Regions from separate parts of the Homo sapiens genome. Here region 1 is linked to region 2. The links come from fine-mapping of genetic effects on gene expression. A gene starts in region 2. The other region holds a variant in brackets. All regions are shown on one strand. Distances are from middle to middle.

Region 1 (8,570 bases), 220 kb before region 2:
GGTCCTCAGGCTATTTACACTTCTGCCTAGCTCACTAAAAATGTGAGGGTTGGTAGTTTGTTTCAAACTATGACTCCATCACTCCTGTCCCCAGGTTTGAGAATTTTCTAGAATGGCTCATTCCTCAGGAAAGCGCTTTACTTACAGTCACAGTTTATCTTAAAGGATACAGTTTAAGAGCAGCCAAATGGAAGAGATGTACAGGGTAAGGGGTGGGGTGGGGATGGAGGTTCCCTGTCTTCTCTGGGGGCACTAGCACCTCAATGTATTCACCATCCTGGAAGCTCAGCCTCGCTGTTTCAGGAGTTTTACTGAAGTTTCATTACATAGGCATGATTGATGGCAATTGGTGGTGATTGGACTCAATCTCCAGCCCTTGTCCCCTCCCTGCAGATCAGGGGGTAGGGCTGAGAGTTCAGCCCTCTATTCATGTGGTCGGTTGCCCTGGCCACCAGCACCCATCTAGAAGCTATGTAAGGGCCATCTAGAGTCACCTCTTAGCATTAACTCAGGTAAGATCAAAAGGGGCTGTTTATGAATAATGGAAGAAACTCCTATCACTCAGGAAATTCCAAGAATTTCAGGTGCCTTTTTGCCAGGAATCAAGGGCAAAGACCAAATAGATAAACATTTTGACCCTAACTTTTGAGACAGGGTCATGTCAGAGCTCAAGCGATCCTCCTGCTTCAGCCTCCCAAGTAGCTGGGACTAAGGTGCATGCACTCATACCCGGGTAATTTTTTTTTTCATTTTTTGTAGAGATGGGGTCTCCCTTTGTTGTCCAGCCTGGTCTTAAATTCCTGGCATCAAGGGTTCCTCCAGCATCAGCTTCCCAAACTGTTACAATTACAGGTGTGAGCCACTGCATCTGGCCCAAATATATATTTTTGATGATAACACAATGGGAGTATCAAAAATTCAGATGGGAGAGCAGAGTCCATTGTTCAGAAGAACAGCAGATCAGTGAAGTCCAAGTGTCTGAAAACCAACCCAGGCAGGGAAGAGTAGGTGGGCAGTTGGAGGGCCAAGAAAACTAACAGCCTGATGTGGCTGATGAAGGACGGAAGTGGATGTGGGCTTTCAGCCATGAGCAGTTGGCAATAACTTAGAAGTAGAGCCTGGGTGCGGAGAAGGAGCAAGTAGATTTGCAATTTTTCAACCTCTCCTAGGTTTCAGGAGTTCATGAGTGTAAATAAGTTCATGAATGTCCAGGCATATTCACATGCATAGCTCCATGTCTCCAAATCTTCACTTGCTTGACAAGATCTTAATCCCATGTTTCTCTTGTCTCCTTAAATTCCTCCTCAGCTATTTCTGGGTGTCCTTGGAATGGTGATGTCTCAACATGGGCTTGGGAACACGTTTGCTCCTCTTCTTTCCACTTGAGTCCAGGGGCCTTGCCATGGCCTCTGCACTTGGTGCTCTTTGAAAGACATGATTCCTGTGCACCCAACAGACCCCTGTGAAACAGGAATAAAAATGTCTCATAGGATGTCAGTGAAGATTCAATAAGATAGTGTTTATAAAGCACTGAGATTAAATAAGAATGTTTGATTCCTACTAAAAGCTCAATTAATGGCTGGGGTTATTATTATTACTGTTCTTATTGTTAGGCATGGTTTTGAATTCCTCACCATCCTAATTGCCACTTAAAATGAACAACTGTCTTTGTGGATACAATTTCAGAGGCAGCATGGGGACTAACTTTTCCAGAACATGAACCTAGTGCCTCCTACAGTGGTAGAAATTAAAATCCTGTGTGAAAACACAAATATGCTTGGGAGAGTTACTGATTGCCAAGAAAGCTCTTTAGTTTCCTTTCTGTGTGAAGAAGCAAGCAGGGCTCAAGGGGCCCTACCAAGGCCATGGAGAATGGTAAGTGCTGCTCACAGCCACCCAGTCTGCGTTCTCCTTTCTAAAGGAGGTCTAAAGAGGTGGGAGTGAATCAGTTTAGTTTGCAAACACACACACACACACACACACACACACACACACATATGAAAATATGCAAGACGGAATCCCAGGGCCACTTTGGGGTGAGACCTTCCCCATGAGCAGGAAGGATGTTGAGGAACTGGAGCAGAGCCCAGGCGGGAAGAAGAACCAACAAGGTCACGTGGCAGCTTGATCTGGCTGGGAACTGAGCTCTGCAGTGTGCTTGGGAATATAAACAATGGGGACAGAAAAGAAAAAAAAAAGATTTCATTAGAAATGTAAAATCAACCAGGAGGGCAGCTCTGTCCTGCTGGGGCATAAAGCCATGGTGGAGGCCCAGGAAAGTTCTGTTGATGGAAAACAGTATCTGGGCATTTGGCAGCAACAGATGACTTAGATATGTTCCCTTGATTTCAGTACTCTCACTTTTATATTGAAATTATGCTATTTGATTTCTCAGCACCTGGTAGAGTGCCTGCACAAGGACTGTGCAGTTAGCATTTGCTGAACTTCACAGAATTGGGGATGGGGTGGAGAAAAGAGCAGAGCCCATCACGAGAGGGAGGTAAAGTTGAGATAAAGAAGTTTGAGATGCTCTAGACACCCTTTGCGTACTTCACCTTTTTTTCTGGCATTAGCCTTGAGCATTAAGATGCAAAGTAAAAGCGAAGGAAAAGGAAGAGGCCTGGAGTGAGGATAGTGCATGGAGCTCATCCTCATGAAATTCTTCTCTGGTTGCTGTTCCCATGAGGTTATGCGATGCCTGAGCCCAGGAACTGTGCTCCTGGGTCCTGATACCAGTGCCCAGCCCATAGCGGGGGATCCCCATTTTATGATAAGAATAAATGAGCACCTCCCAGATCGGTGACTTGCTCCACCCCACAATAACCCCGGGAGGAGGGTGTGGTCAGTCCAGCTGTACAGGTGAGAAAGTGAGCTGGGAGCTGTGACTTATCCACACCCTCTCAGCAGCAGTTGTGACAGCTGGGGTCACACAGTTGATTCACTGCCATAGGGGAAAAGTGGAGGAGGGAGAGGGGCAGAGAGCGAAGAACAACTCAGGAAAATGAAGGAAAAGCAGAGGCAGAGAGCGAAGAACAACTCAGGAAAATGAAGGAAAAGCAGAGGAGAAATTAACTGACTGGAAAAATGACAATAGTTGGAAGACAGACGAAAAAGGGACGAGTGCATCAGAGTGTATTTTGGCACTTATTACTCTATCTCCTTTTTATACTACTTCGCTTTTTCAACTTAATAGTTAAGGCACGTCGGTCTAGTCTTCCCCGAAGGGAGCTTGCCAGGCTCTGCGACAGGCTTGGAAGTTGGAGCCCGGGCCCTGGGTTCTCTCAGCTTCCAGCTCAGGAGGCGGAGTGGGAGGAGCGGGCCTGGCGGCCGTGGGGGCGGGGCTGCTCCACTAACGGTTACTGGTCGCTGCTGCCGCCGCGCTCCTCCCCCGGCTGCGGCAGAGGCGCGCGCCTGCGTCCTGAGGATCCCGCCCTTGGGCCGCCGGGAACCTCGCAGAGCGGCGGGGTGGCCCTGGCGAGGCGCGGTTGTTGGGGGTTCGCTCGAGCCTCACGACGCCCGCGACTGGGGACTCGGAACCTGGGCCAGGCTGGGACGAGGCCGCGCGGGAGGGCGCGCTGGGCGGACGCTGGGGCCGCGGAGCCCAACCGCCCTTGTCCTGGACGCCCCTTGGCGGTCCGCACTGGCGGGTGCCCTCTCCCGAGGGGAACTGAGGCGGGGCGCCTGCCACCATTCGTGATTTTCCGTGACTCACCCTCTCAACAGTGTCCCGTCAGCCCCCGCTTTCTGGAATTAAGATGATTTTCCATGGGCATTATAGTCAGAGGAGGTTTTCTGTGAGACATCTGGGAAAGGTGACTCAATGATCACTCATATTGTTCTATGATGTTATACATTTAAC[C/T]GGAATACTGGTGAACAGCTTTTATATCTTGGAATTTTTTCCCATTTTTGAATCAGAAATTTAGGACCAAGAATCTTCTGTCACAGAACCTATTACTTTGAGGAGTGAACTTATATTAACGGTGCTAAACCGTACATGAACGACTTGGTAGATGAAAACTTTGGAAAATAGGAACATTTCATGTCATCACATGTATCCTCCAGCATTGGGGAAAATTCAACAGTTGCCTTAAGGCGGGAGTTTAATTGAGGACATTTACTAAAAAGTTACTTATTCTGTTTGAAATTCTCTTCTGATAAACATCTTCCCGGGATAACGAACATCTCCAGGATGTGAGAGCCGAGCGCGTGTCCGCGGAGTGCTTGAGCAACGCAGAATGGCTTCGGTGCTGCGTTCCTTAGACCCCGTGCGGACCCTGCTGAGCCCTCAGCATCTGTGAGTGAGTCCCTCCGCGTCACCTTGGCCTCCCGTGTAGCTAGATCAGTCTTCCGACCCCTTGTTCTACTTGCACAGATTTCTGATTAACCTCTTCTGCTCCTCCAGAGATGAGTCAGGGCTCCGTATCAGCTCCCCAAGGCATTTGCTGGCTTCTGACATTTACTTGGAGGACTTTGGGCTGCGAAAGGGCAAAGTTTGCCGTTCTCATCTCTTTTTTTGGTGCCTGCCCCCGGGTCTTGACCTTTCTCTGGAGTCTTCTCTCCTGGTTCTTTACCCACCTCTTTGGTTTCTCCTGTGGTTCTTTGTCAAGGTGTCCCCTAGATGTCACACTCTGAGGCTCAGTTGTGGCTGAGTCTTGCATTGCAAGTGTTTTTGCAGGTGTCTCTGCGAAGCGTGGATATGGGATGGTGAAAGTGGCAGTGTGCACAGAGTGTTTGGGATTAGATGGGCAGGTGGAAGGGCGTCTAGGTAGGACCCCTTTGTCCTGGTGTGAGGTAATGAGGTTCTAGAGTGTGCTGTCAAGGTGAAACTAAAAGGAAAGGATAGACAGGAGACTTTGTGAAAGACGAAATTATGGTAGTTTGGTAACAAATGGATGCAGGGACTGGTGGGTGGGTGTAGAAGAAGGCAGAAAATCTTGCCAAGGACATTGCAAGTCCTGAATCAGACCAGGAAAATTAAGGTTCAATTAACAGAAATAAGTCCAGAGGGGGAGCTAATTTTGGAGGAAGTGTGGTGATAAATTTGCTTTTCTATGTGGTCCAGCTGGTGGAGAGACATCAAGAAGCACTTAGAGAAATACAGGAAATAGAGAGGTGGGTGACCTAAGTCCTACTTCCTATCCTGTCTATGTATATATAACAAAGGCCAAATGAATTCATGTGTTGAGGTCTGCTTTCCTATTTCTAATAGCAATGGCATAAAATGAATTCTAGCCAATTCTAAAGTCACTAGTAGATAGTAATATTCACGAAGTAGCCACAAATCCAGGGCTCTAACTCAAGGGAGAGAGATCGGGACTGGAGATAGAATTTTCACAAGTAACTGATGCATGGCACTTTTCTGTATTTTGGTAAATGTATTGAGAAGATGATTGCAGTTAAGTAGCTAACTGTTCCAGATACTATCCGAGGCATGAATGATTTGTCCTGGAGTAGGTGTGCTGTGTCACTGTAGCATATCTACTACAACAGACATGATATGTTTCCATACATTATCTCATTTAACACTCAGAAGAACTTCAGGAGTAGTTATTACTAGTCCATTTTGCAGAAGCTTACAGATAAGATTCAGAGATGAAGCATCAGGTCTATCTGATTTAAACCCAGGTCTATCTGATTTCAAAGTCGATGGACTTTTTGTTATTTCATACCATAATCTGTCAGGGTGTGAGTGGGGGATAAAAGAAAGTTAAACAAAACTCTTGGAAACAGAGAGGAAGGGCTTAAACCATTAAAATTAACTTCAGAAGTCAAGAATGAAGCTCGGGCAGAAAACAAGTAGAGGGCACAGTTCTGTCCCGATTTACAGAGGATGGGTTTGCGACCTTTCTGATGCATTAACTTAGTAATGCTAAGGTGTGCCATCCAAAACGATCACCTGTATATAAGCCACTCTTTCACAGAGGTGGGTTTTTCTTTTCTTTTTTAATTCCCATGCTGCTCAAAACCTTTTAGATTTGAATTATTGGGAAGAATATCTCAGGGTAGGCAGGAAGCCAAAGGGGTTGAGAGCTGCTTGTCACTTGCTGGTTTTGCTTGGTATGGGCTCGGTCAGCAGTAGGGACTTCCTTAGTCCTCAGTCTTTCTAGGTTAACTACCACCCTCTTGGTCCTTGTTTCTGTTTTGCTTTTCCTGGCTTGGACATGGAATTTGTAAGTGCCACACATTATTTCCTGTCCCATGACCATACTTAAGCTATAAATTATAGTTTTGTTTCTTCCTGATCCTTTTCCTTCAACACCAAATGTGTTTGTGCCTCAAACCAGGAAGTTGGAAATGTTATTTAACTTTCCTGCATTTTAATTGGTCACAAATCTCTCCCCTTACACACACGCCCCCAACTTTTGAGGAGTCTTGAGAATCTCCTTAACGTCCTTGACAGTTGATCAATGAAAGACATGTAGGGAGATCCAGATTGCAATGAATATTGTATTATTTGCTTAAGAATTTGAAGAGTTATTGCTTCGTAGTAAATGAAGATGAGCATATTGAGGTTTATAAGGGAGGCTGAGGTTCACTTGGCCAGAGATTCAGATGTTCACTTTATTTTATAATCATCCTTTTTAAAAAACAAAATAGACTGACATGGGCAACTTTCTCAAGATTTCATATGGCACATTGCATGTAGGGATAAACAGTACCAACATTATTTGCTTGGAGTGCTTTAGGATCGAGGAATGGGGAAGCCTAAGCAAAACCCCCAAATCTTGGCAAGCTCAGGAGGAGGGAGCAGATAGCACTGCTGGGGTGATCTGTGCTGCTTGAATGCTCTTTTGGAGAATCACTTCCCTGTAGATAGGCCACAGATTACAGTTTACCAAAAGCATTGACTGTCAGACCCACATAGCTGGTTTCCATTAACATGGTTTTGCTCTAGGTCTTTTTCAAGTCCTCTTTTTTTGTTTGTTTGTTTTTTCTTTTTTCTTTTTTTTTGAGACGGAGTTTCGCTCTTGTTGCTCAGGCTGGAGTGCAATGGCGTGATCTCGGCTCACTGCAACCTCTGCCTTCAGGGTTCAAGCGATTCTCCTGCCTCAGCCTCCCGAGTACCTGGGATTACAGGCGCCTGCCAGCACGCCTGGCTAATTTTGTATTTTTAGTAGAGATGGGATTTCACCACGTTGGCCAGGCTGGTCTTGAACTCCTGACCACAGGTCATCCACCTGCCTCGGCCTCCCAAAGTGCTGGGATTACAGGCATGAACCACCATGCCCGGCCTCAAGTCCTCTTTTAAACGTGGAAACTTCTTCCTGCATTACACAGTTCTTTTCTCACCCTCTTCCTGCCTCCCTTCCTTTCACTATACCTTAGCTATACTGAATTGGACATATAATTCTTAGCTCATGCATGGCTTTCTTTTAATAATTAGCTAAACAATAGCATGGTCATATATGATGATATCACCCAACCAGAGAATAACAACATTGTCCGTATTTACCTCTGTACATTTTCTCTGCAGCCTGTATGCCTGTCTCTCTTACCTCTTTGTGCTGATTGTTCTGTTGCCTTTTTTGTAGTTTTCATAGTTTCGTCAGTGTGCATGTATTTATACATTTATGTATGTATGTATATGTGTTGTTTGTGTATATATGTTCACATGTATGTGTAGCCTAAATATAGCACCTAAACAATATTCTATTTACTTTTAGTCATTTATGAACTTCATAAGAAGCTTATTATTCTGTATAGAGCAACTTGGAGCTAGCTTATTTCACTCAGTAGTATGTTATTAATATCCAACTGTGTGTACAGTTTAATTTGTTTTTCCTTGCTGCCTATTATTCCACTTGATTATGTCACATAATTTGGGTCGTTTGTAAATTTTTGTTGTGAGCAACAGTCCTCATATGAATCTTCTTATACATGTTTGTGAAGCACCGGTGCAAGGCATCAACTAGTTCTAAGAGGCTTGCTTTAAAATTTAGTGGGAATATGTACATGAAAATGAGAACTGGCCAGGAGCGGTGGCTTATGCCTGTAATCCCAGCACTTTGGGAGGCCAAGGCAGGTGGATCATGAGGTCAGGAGATCAAGACAATCCTGGCCAACATGGTGAAACCCTGTCTCTACTAAAAATACAAAAATTAGCTGGGCGTGGTAGCAGACACCTGTAATCCCAGCTACTTGGGAGGCTGAGGCAGGAGAATTGCTTGAACCCAGGAAATGGAGGTTGCAGTGAGCCGAGATTGCGCCACTGCACTCCAGCCTGGCGATAGAGCAAGACTCCGTCTCAAAAAAAAAAAAAAAAAAAAGAACTGTAGCAGCATGCTCAGATGTGTGATTCAGAAGTGAAGCTAGAATGAAGATGATGTAGAGAAAGCCAGGAGGCCAGATGGGAGATTGTTATAAAGCCAGGAGATGTTGAGAGTTAGTATGATTGGAAATGGAGAAGAGCAAGTTAGATTTGAGGGAGATTGGAGGATGGACATGCTGGGGCCTAGAGGTTAATGGCACATGTGACTGAGAGAGAGACAGACAGACATTTTCCCCATGCTTTCCAGCTGAAGTGCCTAGGTAGATGGTGATACTATTAAATGAGGTACAGAATAGAGATG
Region 2 (8,570 bases):
ATTCCCATTAAACCAGAAACTGCCTGGCGAGGCACTCCACATAGCATTTGTAAATACAATGACATCTGGATATAATCCAGTCCACAACTTACCTGCATGGACGTGCTGTAAGGGAAATGTGTGTTTCTAAGAACAATGGTACCGATGTCATTCCTAGTCAACCAGTGTCAGAGACAAAACAGTTTAAGCTCAGCAACTCTAGGACCAGCAGGGGAAGAAGTGAGCTCGCCCACTCCGTCACACCCTACTGAAAACCACAGTGACCCCCAACGTCAGAAGCCAGGGGCCTTTCCTTAGGATCACAGGCACTAGGAAATCTGAATTTAAGTGAGCCTAGTTATCAACTGGCCCATATATTTGAGTAAATGGATTGTTTTACTGTGTCTCGTTATGCCTGCAAAATAGAAAAATGCTCCAGCATCTGCCAGAGTTATGGAGAGCCAGGGCAAGATCATATATGTAAAATGCAGAAAAACATGGATTTGACATTTGACATAATATAATCATCTTTGAACTTCCCTCTTTCATTAGCTCCTATGATAAACTGTCCTAATTCTGTTCATTTACTTATTAACTTGTTTAATCAGTTAGTATGTGTGGAGTGTCCATTTGTGCCAGTTACTCTTCAAGGTCCTGGGGATAGATAGAGCAGTGAACAAAATAGAAAAAAATCTCTCTTCCTAATGTAGCTTACCTTTTGACTCACCATCCTTCCATTCACTTCACTATTTCATTTCCTTTTCTTCAATTAAATATATTTGCTACATGGCCGGGCGAGGTGGCTCACACTTGTAATCCCAGCACTTTGGGAGGCCAAGGTGGGGAGATTGTTTGAACCCAGGAGTTTGAGACCAGCCTGGGCAACAGGGCGAAACTCTGTCTCTACAAAAAATACAAAAATTAGCTGGGCGTGGTGGCGGGCACCTGTAGTCGCAGGTACTTGGGAGGCTGAGGTGAGAAGATCACTTGAGCCTGAAAGGTAGAGGCTACAGTGAGTCAGGTTGTGGCACTACACTATAGCCTGGGCAGCAGAGCAAGACCCTGTCTCAATATATATACGTGTGTGTGTGTGTGTGTGTGTGTGTGTGTGTGTATTTCCAACATGCCAGGACCTATATTAAGTGTCTACTATCTATTAGCTCGTTTAATACTCTGAAAGGCCTTATATGAATGACACTAACACCTCTTCACTGCACGTCAGAAGAAATGCAGGGCAGAAACGCGGCACAGCTTGCCTCAAGCTTCTCAGCAAGTGCCACAGCCCTTAGTCCGGAGCCAGAGTCTGTTTTTCTTTGCTAAGCCTTCTGCTCTTTAGCTTTTTTCTCTAATGCCACATCTTTCGTGTTTTGCTAATACAGATCCATGTGTGTTCTCCAAGAATCTATTCGCTTTAATTGCGCACTTAACCTTTAGGCCTCAAGATCCTCTGCTCTGCCTGTCGCCAGAGATCCAGCCCAAGAGTTTGTCCTTATAATGAAGACCCACAAACCCCAGAGGATCCCCAAGGACCTGAGTCATCTGGCCCCGCCTCTTGCTGCAGCCTTATCTGCTGCCACCATATTCTGGCCCAGCTTGCCAGCCTGCCTGGCTTCTCACTGTCATCTGGGTATGTCTTGCTCCCACCTGCTGAAGTTTACCTTGTACCTTTCATGGCTTCTGGGGGCACGGCCTTGCGGAGCCCCCCTTCCCGCTGGCCAGCTTGTGTTCACCTATCAGAGGTTTGCTCAGAGACCTCAGGTGTCTGCCCCCGACCCTGCAGCCTCATTCAGAGTCCTCTGTTATATTCCTGCAGGACTGGTGAGCGACCTTCCTTGCAGTTATTGGTTTGTAATTATATGTTTGCATGATTTCATATCCACCTCTTCTAGTTGATCTTAAGGCTCCTGGAGAAATGGGGTCCCACCTCTTTTCCTTAACATGTGTATTTTCAGTACCCGGTGCAATGTCTGAGACTCCTGGCTACAAACAGACACAATGTGTGCTCAGGGACAGATTGATTTGCCACAGGTACACCCCACCATCACTTCAAACTCGACCATACTAAAGTTATTTTGCACAGATGCAGACACTGCCTCAGACTTGTCGACTTTCTGGACGACATTAGAGACTTTAATGTACTTTATCCTGATTCAGCCTTCCACTGGATGAAGTAACATACTCTGTCAAATCATTTTGCTCCTGTCTCAGCCTCCCCCATCTGACAGGTACACCACTGAGAGGCTAAGCTTGAATTATTCCTCTGATGAGTATCTCTATAGCTTTGTCATCTCCAAGACTGGCTTTGCAACAATCCTACAACATGTGTGTATTCCTTGTAGGATCCTCATTGAACTAGGCCAGATATTTATTTAAATATTTAGAATTATTTTTGGCTGGGCTGTAAACCTATAGTTACACACACCTATGCAGGCATCTTCCCGTGTCAGGCGGTGTCTCATTTCTTTATCAAGAGGTAATTAGTGCAAGAGAAAAAAATGAAGTTTGAAAAAAACATTTAAAAATTGATTATGCCATATAAAGGGGGAAAGCCTTTTAAGAAACGATTATGGCATGAGAGGACCATGGAGTAGCTCAGTAACAATGGAAGGGGCTCGGAGGGTGGAAGGCGGGCGAGGGATGAGAGATCACCTAATGAGAACAATTTACGCTATCACAGCGATGCCTGCGCTAAAGCCTAGACTTTATGCAGTGTCTCCATGTAACAAAACTGCACTGGTACCCCAGAAATCTGCACTAAATCTATATAATGATGATGGAGGCTGGGCGCGGTGGCTCGCGCCTGTAATCCCAGCACTCTGGGAGGTCGAGGCGGGCAGATCACCTGAGGTCACGAGTTCAAGACCAGGCTGACCAAAATGGTGAAACCCCGTCTCTACTAAAAATACAAAAATTAGCCGGGCATGGTGGCGGGCGCCTGTAATCCCTGCTGCTTGCGAGGCTGAGGCAGGAGAATCGCTTGAACCCGGGAGGCGGAGGCTGCAGTGAGCCGAGATCGCGCCACCGCACTCCAGCCTGGGCGACAGAGCGAGACTCCCTCTCAAAAAAACAAAAACAAAAACAAACAAACAAAGATGGAAGGAAGGAGGGAATTTAGCAATTCTCCAGATCTACTGCCAGTGAAAATAGCATATGAGGAGGGATTCCAGTTAGAAATGCCCAGTTTCCTGGGTGTGTGTGTGACGGGGGCGGGGAACCACAACGTTAATTTTATCCCCGACATAGGGAGCGCCTGAGTGGTGGCTTTTCACCGGGTGTGGCTCGTCTGAGCTCTTGAACTGAAGCCAGCGGACACCACCCGTCGGCGCCTGCTTTCCTGGGGCGTGGGCTCCTCCCCCTGTGCAGACCGCGAGGGGAGACGGTGCGGGCGGCCGGGAGCGCAGCCCTCCGGGAGGCGGGTCATGGCCTGGGCGCCGCCCGGGGAGCGGCTGCGCGAGGATGCGCGGTGCCCGGTGTGCCTGGATTTCCTGCAGGAGCCGGTCAGCGTGGACTGCGGCCACAGCTTCTGCCTCAGGTGCATCTCCGAGTTCTGCGAGAAGTCGGACGGCGCGCAGGGCGGCGTCTACGCCTGTCCGCAGTGCCGGGGCCCCTTCCGGCCCTCGGGCTTTCGCCCCAACCGGCAGCTGGCGGGCCTGGTGGAGAGCGTGCGGCGGCTGGGGTTGGGCGCGGGGCCCGGGGCGCGGCGATGCGCGCGGCACGGCGAGGACCTGAGCCGCTTCTGCGAGGAGGACGAGGCGGCGCTGTGCTGGGTGTGCGACGCCGGCCCCGAGCACAGGACGCACCGCACGGCGCCGCTGCAGGAGGCCGCCGGCAGCTACCAGGTGAGGCGCCCCCCGGCGGGGGCTGCGGGCGCTGCGGTGACCGGGAAGCGGGCGACAGTCCGGAGCGGAGCCGCCGAGGCCACCCGTCTCCTGAGCGGCTCCCACGGCCGCTCCCCCCACCGCGCGCCGTCCCCCCCGCCCACGCGGCTCACTCAGTGTGGGTCTCTTTGCCTTGGCTGTGGTAACCCCCTTTGCGACACACACCCATTATTTTACACCGTCCGCCCCTCCCCCAAGCACTCTCCTGTCGTCGAACTCGCGCTGGGCTGGTTTCTCCCGATGCGGATAGTCTGGTCCCTCAGCTGGGCTCTGGTCGGGAGGGCTGTGTGGTCCAGTTCATTCTTGGTAACAATTGTACGTCTATATCGTAAACTTGCCATAATAATTCTCATTTGTGCAATGCTTTGCTTTTGCACAGTGTTTACATTAAATGAGTGTTGTCAGCAAAGCAACCCTCGGGTTTGGGCGTTGTTAAGAAGAGTGTCGAGCTGGGTACGGGTTCCGACCCCTCCAAAGCTCAGGTGCACGTGCCTCCTGAAGTAGGAGCGGGTGGCTCTCCATCAGCAGGGATTTGGGGACTTAGGATTCGAACATCCTCAATGAAGAGGTGCTTCATTTGGGGTGTAGCCCGGGAAGCTTCAAAGAGAAAGAAGAAAAACAAAATGGGAGTATTTGGTCCCCAGAGTGGCATCTGTGAAATTGTGTGTCGATTTCTTCCTACTGGTGCCCTTCAAAAGTTCTTGGATGTTTTCTGAACACACTTGAATCCCAGCATGTAGAACAACTGCCAGCACAGAGGAGGTCTAAGTCGTCTTTACTGACAGATTTAACCAAAGGACTGTCAGTCGCGCTGTAGTGCATTGCAAATACTTTCTTAAAATTTTTATTTATTTATTTTGTTTGTTTTAAATTAAGGTTTAGGATATTTTCCCCTTCCTTCTCTACCAATATCTCTCTTGGTATTTCTTCTTGATTTTCGTTGTCATTTGCGAGATGTAGGTACTAGTACTAGGTAATTTCTAGCTAAACTTTTCTGGAATGTTCTTGCCTTTTTAAAAAAAGTCCAGAAAGAGGATTGGTAGTAACTTTTTTTTTTTTTTTTTTTTTTTTTTGAGACGGAGTCTAGTTCTGTAGCTCAGGCTGGAGGGCAGTGGCGCAATCTCGGCTCATTGCAACCTCCGTCTCCCGGGTCCTGGTGCAAGCAATTCTCCTGCCTCAGCCTCCCGGGTAGCTGGGATTACAGGTATGCGTCACCACACCCGGCTAATTTTTGTATTTTTAGTAGAGACGGGGTTTCACTGTGTTGGCCAGGCTGGTCTTGAACTCCTGACCTTGTGATCCATCCGCCGTGGCCTCCCAAAGTGCTGGTGTTACAGGCAGCCCAGCCTCTAGTGTAATATTTCTAAAGGTGTTCTCCATATTTTCAGTAGTTCTTCGGTTAAATACCAAATAAATATTATCTAAACTCCTGAGCCTCTCAGTGAAAGCTTTCTAGGGCCCTAAGTTATGTTTCCATAGCTCTCTTGTCTTAACCAGCCAGGAAACCCAGCAAATTTAGCCGAATCACTGTTTTCCTAACTGTGCTACATCTCCTTGCTTTTGCTGACAGTTTCTTTGGCCTGAGGGAGCTTTTCTTTATCTACAAGTGTCAAAGTGCTCCGTTCTTTGTAAACACCAAAACACATGCCACTTTCCCCACTGAGTCAAATGGTATCATGAATTCTACTGTTATTTTATATATAACAATTATAATATTCTCCTTTTAAAAACAATTGATGTGTATGTAGGATTTATTGAGTAACTTTGGGAATATAATTTTTTAATTAAAATCCTGTTTATGTATGTATCTTTGTGAGTATTTAAAATACACATATTTACCTCTAGTGAGCGCCCTATCATTGAAGGAAGATTTAGTTCTCATTGTATTTTTACTCATTGCAAGGTTTACAACATACTGTGTTTTTTCATATAAAATATGATAACCTACCAAGTTCCTTCTGACCTAATAATACTACTAATACTACAATAATAAACCCATGCTTTATCATAAAGTAACCAATAACTTCAAGAAGTTGAAGTTATATAGAGAAATACAGAATACAGTTATATAGAGAAATATATAAATATAGAGAAATGTATAAATATAGTTATATAGAGAAATATATGAAATATAGAGATATAATAGCATCACTCTTCATCCAAACACCAATAGATGACATTTTATCTAATATCATTCTCATTTACATCAGCCCAGTTTTAATATATTCATTACCAGCACATTTTTTTTCAAAATTCATGTTGTTTTGTAAAATATTTTTATTCATTGGACATTATCATTGTATTTCTAGTCATTAAACATTCTGTAACATCTTATTTTAATTCTATCCAGTTAATATAATTTTTTTCTCCCCTATCTTTAATGTTTTAGTTTAGTTATGCTATCGTATATAACAATGCAGTGAGCATACTTTTAGATAAATATTTGATTGTATCTGGTATTAAAATACATTTAAGGAGCTAGGCCCAGTGGCTCATGCCTATAATCCCAGCACTTTGGAAGGCCAAGATGGGAGACTCTCTGGAGGCCAGCAGTTTGACACCAGCCTGGGCAATATAGTAAGACCCCATCTCTACAGAAAACAAAATTAGCTGAATGTAATGATGTGTGCCTGGAGTCCTAGCTGCTTGGGAGGCTGAGGTGGGAGGATCATTTGATCCCAGGAGTTTGAGGCTGCAGTGAGCCATGATCGCAACACTGCACAACCTGAGTGACAGAGCGAGACCCTGACACTAAAACTTAAGTACATTTATGTTTAGTTTTTAATGATATTGAACATTTTTATGTGCTTTCTAGGGACTGTTTAAGTTGACTTTTGTATTTCCTCACACATCTGTGTGACGTTAGGTACAGATTGAGGGCATCTGTAACAGCTGAAATGTTCCCAAACAGGTAAAGCTCCAGATGGCTCTGGAACTTATGAGGAAAGAGTTGGAGGACGCCTTGACTCAGGAGGCCAACGTGGGGAAAAAGACTGTCATTTGGAAGGTAAGACCATGTTGGGGCTTTAGGAGGCTTGCCTGTTTGAAGGATCCAGATTCGGGTCAGTAATTCTTCTACCATCTTCCATTCTCCAGCACTTTTGTTCCATCTCCATATATGCCCAAGAGCACCTCAGAGCCATCCTGGGTCATCCCGTCCCCTCAAATGATATGGTTCATTTTTGTTCTTTTTGTCTCTACTGCCATCACCCAATCCAAATTATAATTAAATAGCTTTGCTAGTTTGATCTTCCTGTAAAACCCACTGCTGTATCCCTGTCACCTAGAATAGCATCTTATACTGTTGCTACCAGTTTGAAAATATTTGTTAGGTGAATGAAATAATGAATATTTCACAACTTTGTAACAGAAGAAGTGTAGCCCAAGGTGATCATCTTATATACAGGGTAATAATCTGAACGTTTAGCCTTTTTTTTCTATCATCTATACATACACATATTCCATTTTTTTATACCTCACTAGCTCTTTTTATTCCATGTTTCATTCATGCACATGTGCGTGCACACGTGTACACACACACACAGTGATTCATACACACACAGTGATTCACATACACACACACACACAGTGATTCTCAACCTGAGGCGATACCTGCCCCCCAAGATAACATTTTGCAATTTCTGGAGATGATATTTTTGGATGTCACAACTGAGGAGGGGTGGGTGCAGTGCACCTGTCATCTAGTAGAGGCAGGAATGCAGCTTAACACCCTGTAGTCCACAGGACAGTTCCCATATCTTGTGAGGAAAAAATGATCTGTTCAAGATGTCAGTAGTGTCAAGATTGAGAAACTACGTATAGAAACTGTGTGTATAGTTCTATATATTCATATAATGTATTATATAATATGATATATAATAGGTTATACTTTGCAGAATATTCCTATTCTTTCTCCTTTTCCAAATAACCCTTCTTTTCTGATCACTCTATATATTTATAATTATTTCCTTCTTGTTTTCTTTGAAAATTTAGTCTTATACTCTGTCTTTATACAGATATTACATAAAGACTTTTTAAACTATATTTTTCTTTATTTACTACATTACTAGATTACAATATAGATATATACGGATAGGAAAAGATAACACTTATCCCAGAAGAAACATGTACATTAAGGCCAGGCGTGGTGGCTCACACCTGTAATCTCAGCACTTTGGGAAGCCGAAGCAGGTGGATCACCTGAGGTCAGGAGTTCGAGACCAGCCTGACCAACACGGAGAAACCCCGTCTCTACTAAAAATACAAAAAAAAATTAGCCAGGCGTGGTGGCACATGCCTATAATCCCAGCTACTCGGGAGGCTGAGGCAGGAGAATTGCTTGAACCTAGGAGGCAGAGGTTGTGGTGAGCTGAGATCGTGCCATTGCACTCCAGCCTGGGCAACAAGAGTGAAACTCTGTCTCAGACAAAAAAAGGAAAAAAGAAAAGAAAAATGTACATTATAGGTAAATGATGTAGATAGTGATAGGAAAGGATAAAAGTTATCAATATTAAATAATATTGATGTTAATAACATTAGTACCTAACGTTACTCAGATGTGTGAAGAAATATTTAAACTTATTAACGTTGATACTGACAAACTTATCAATATTATTAACAAATATCTTTAAACTAGTAGTGACAGTATAAGATGCAATTCTAGGTGATAGGGATATAGCAGTGGGTTCTGCAGTAAGATCAAGCTAGTAAAGC

Evidence for each region. PIP is the estimated chance that this variant, and not a neighbour inherited with it, causes the effect.
Region 1: its variant is fine-mapped to the expression of TRIM58 in subcutaneous fat (GTEx, PIP above 0.99).

The regions. Positions count from the first base shown.
Region 1 is chr1:247,636,136-247,644,705 of GRCh38, forward strand. It overlaps LOC102724446 (a long non-coding RNA gene), which reads right to left and starts at 4,719. Exons shown (of 3, transcript NR_188589.1): 1 at 4,576-4,719. RefSeq lists a silencer at 3,530-3,728. The variant C/T (reference allele first, on the strand shown) is at 3,860.
Region 2 is chr1:247,853,849-247,862,418 of GRCh38, forward strand. TRIM58 (tripartite motif containing 58) reads left to right here and starts at 3,339. Exons shown (of 6, transcript NM_015431.4): 1 at 3,339-3,818; 2 at 6,769-6,864. The coding sequence starts at 3,399. RefSeq lists a cis regulatory region at 1,252-1,816.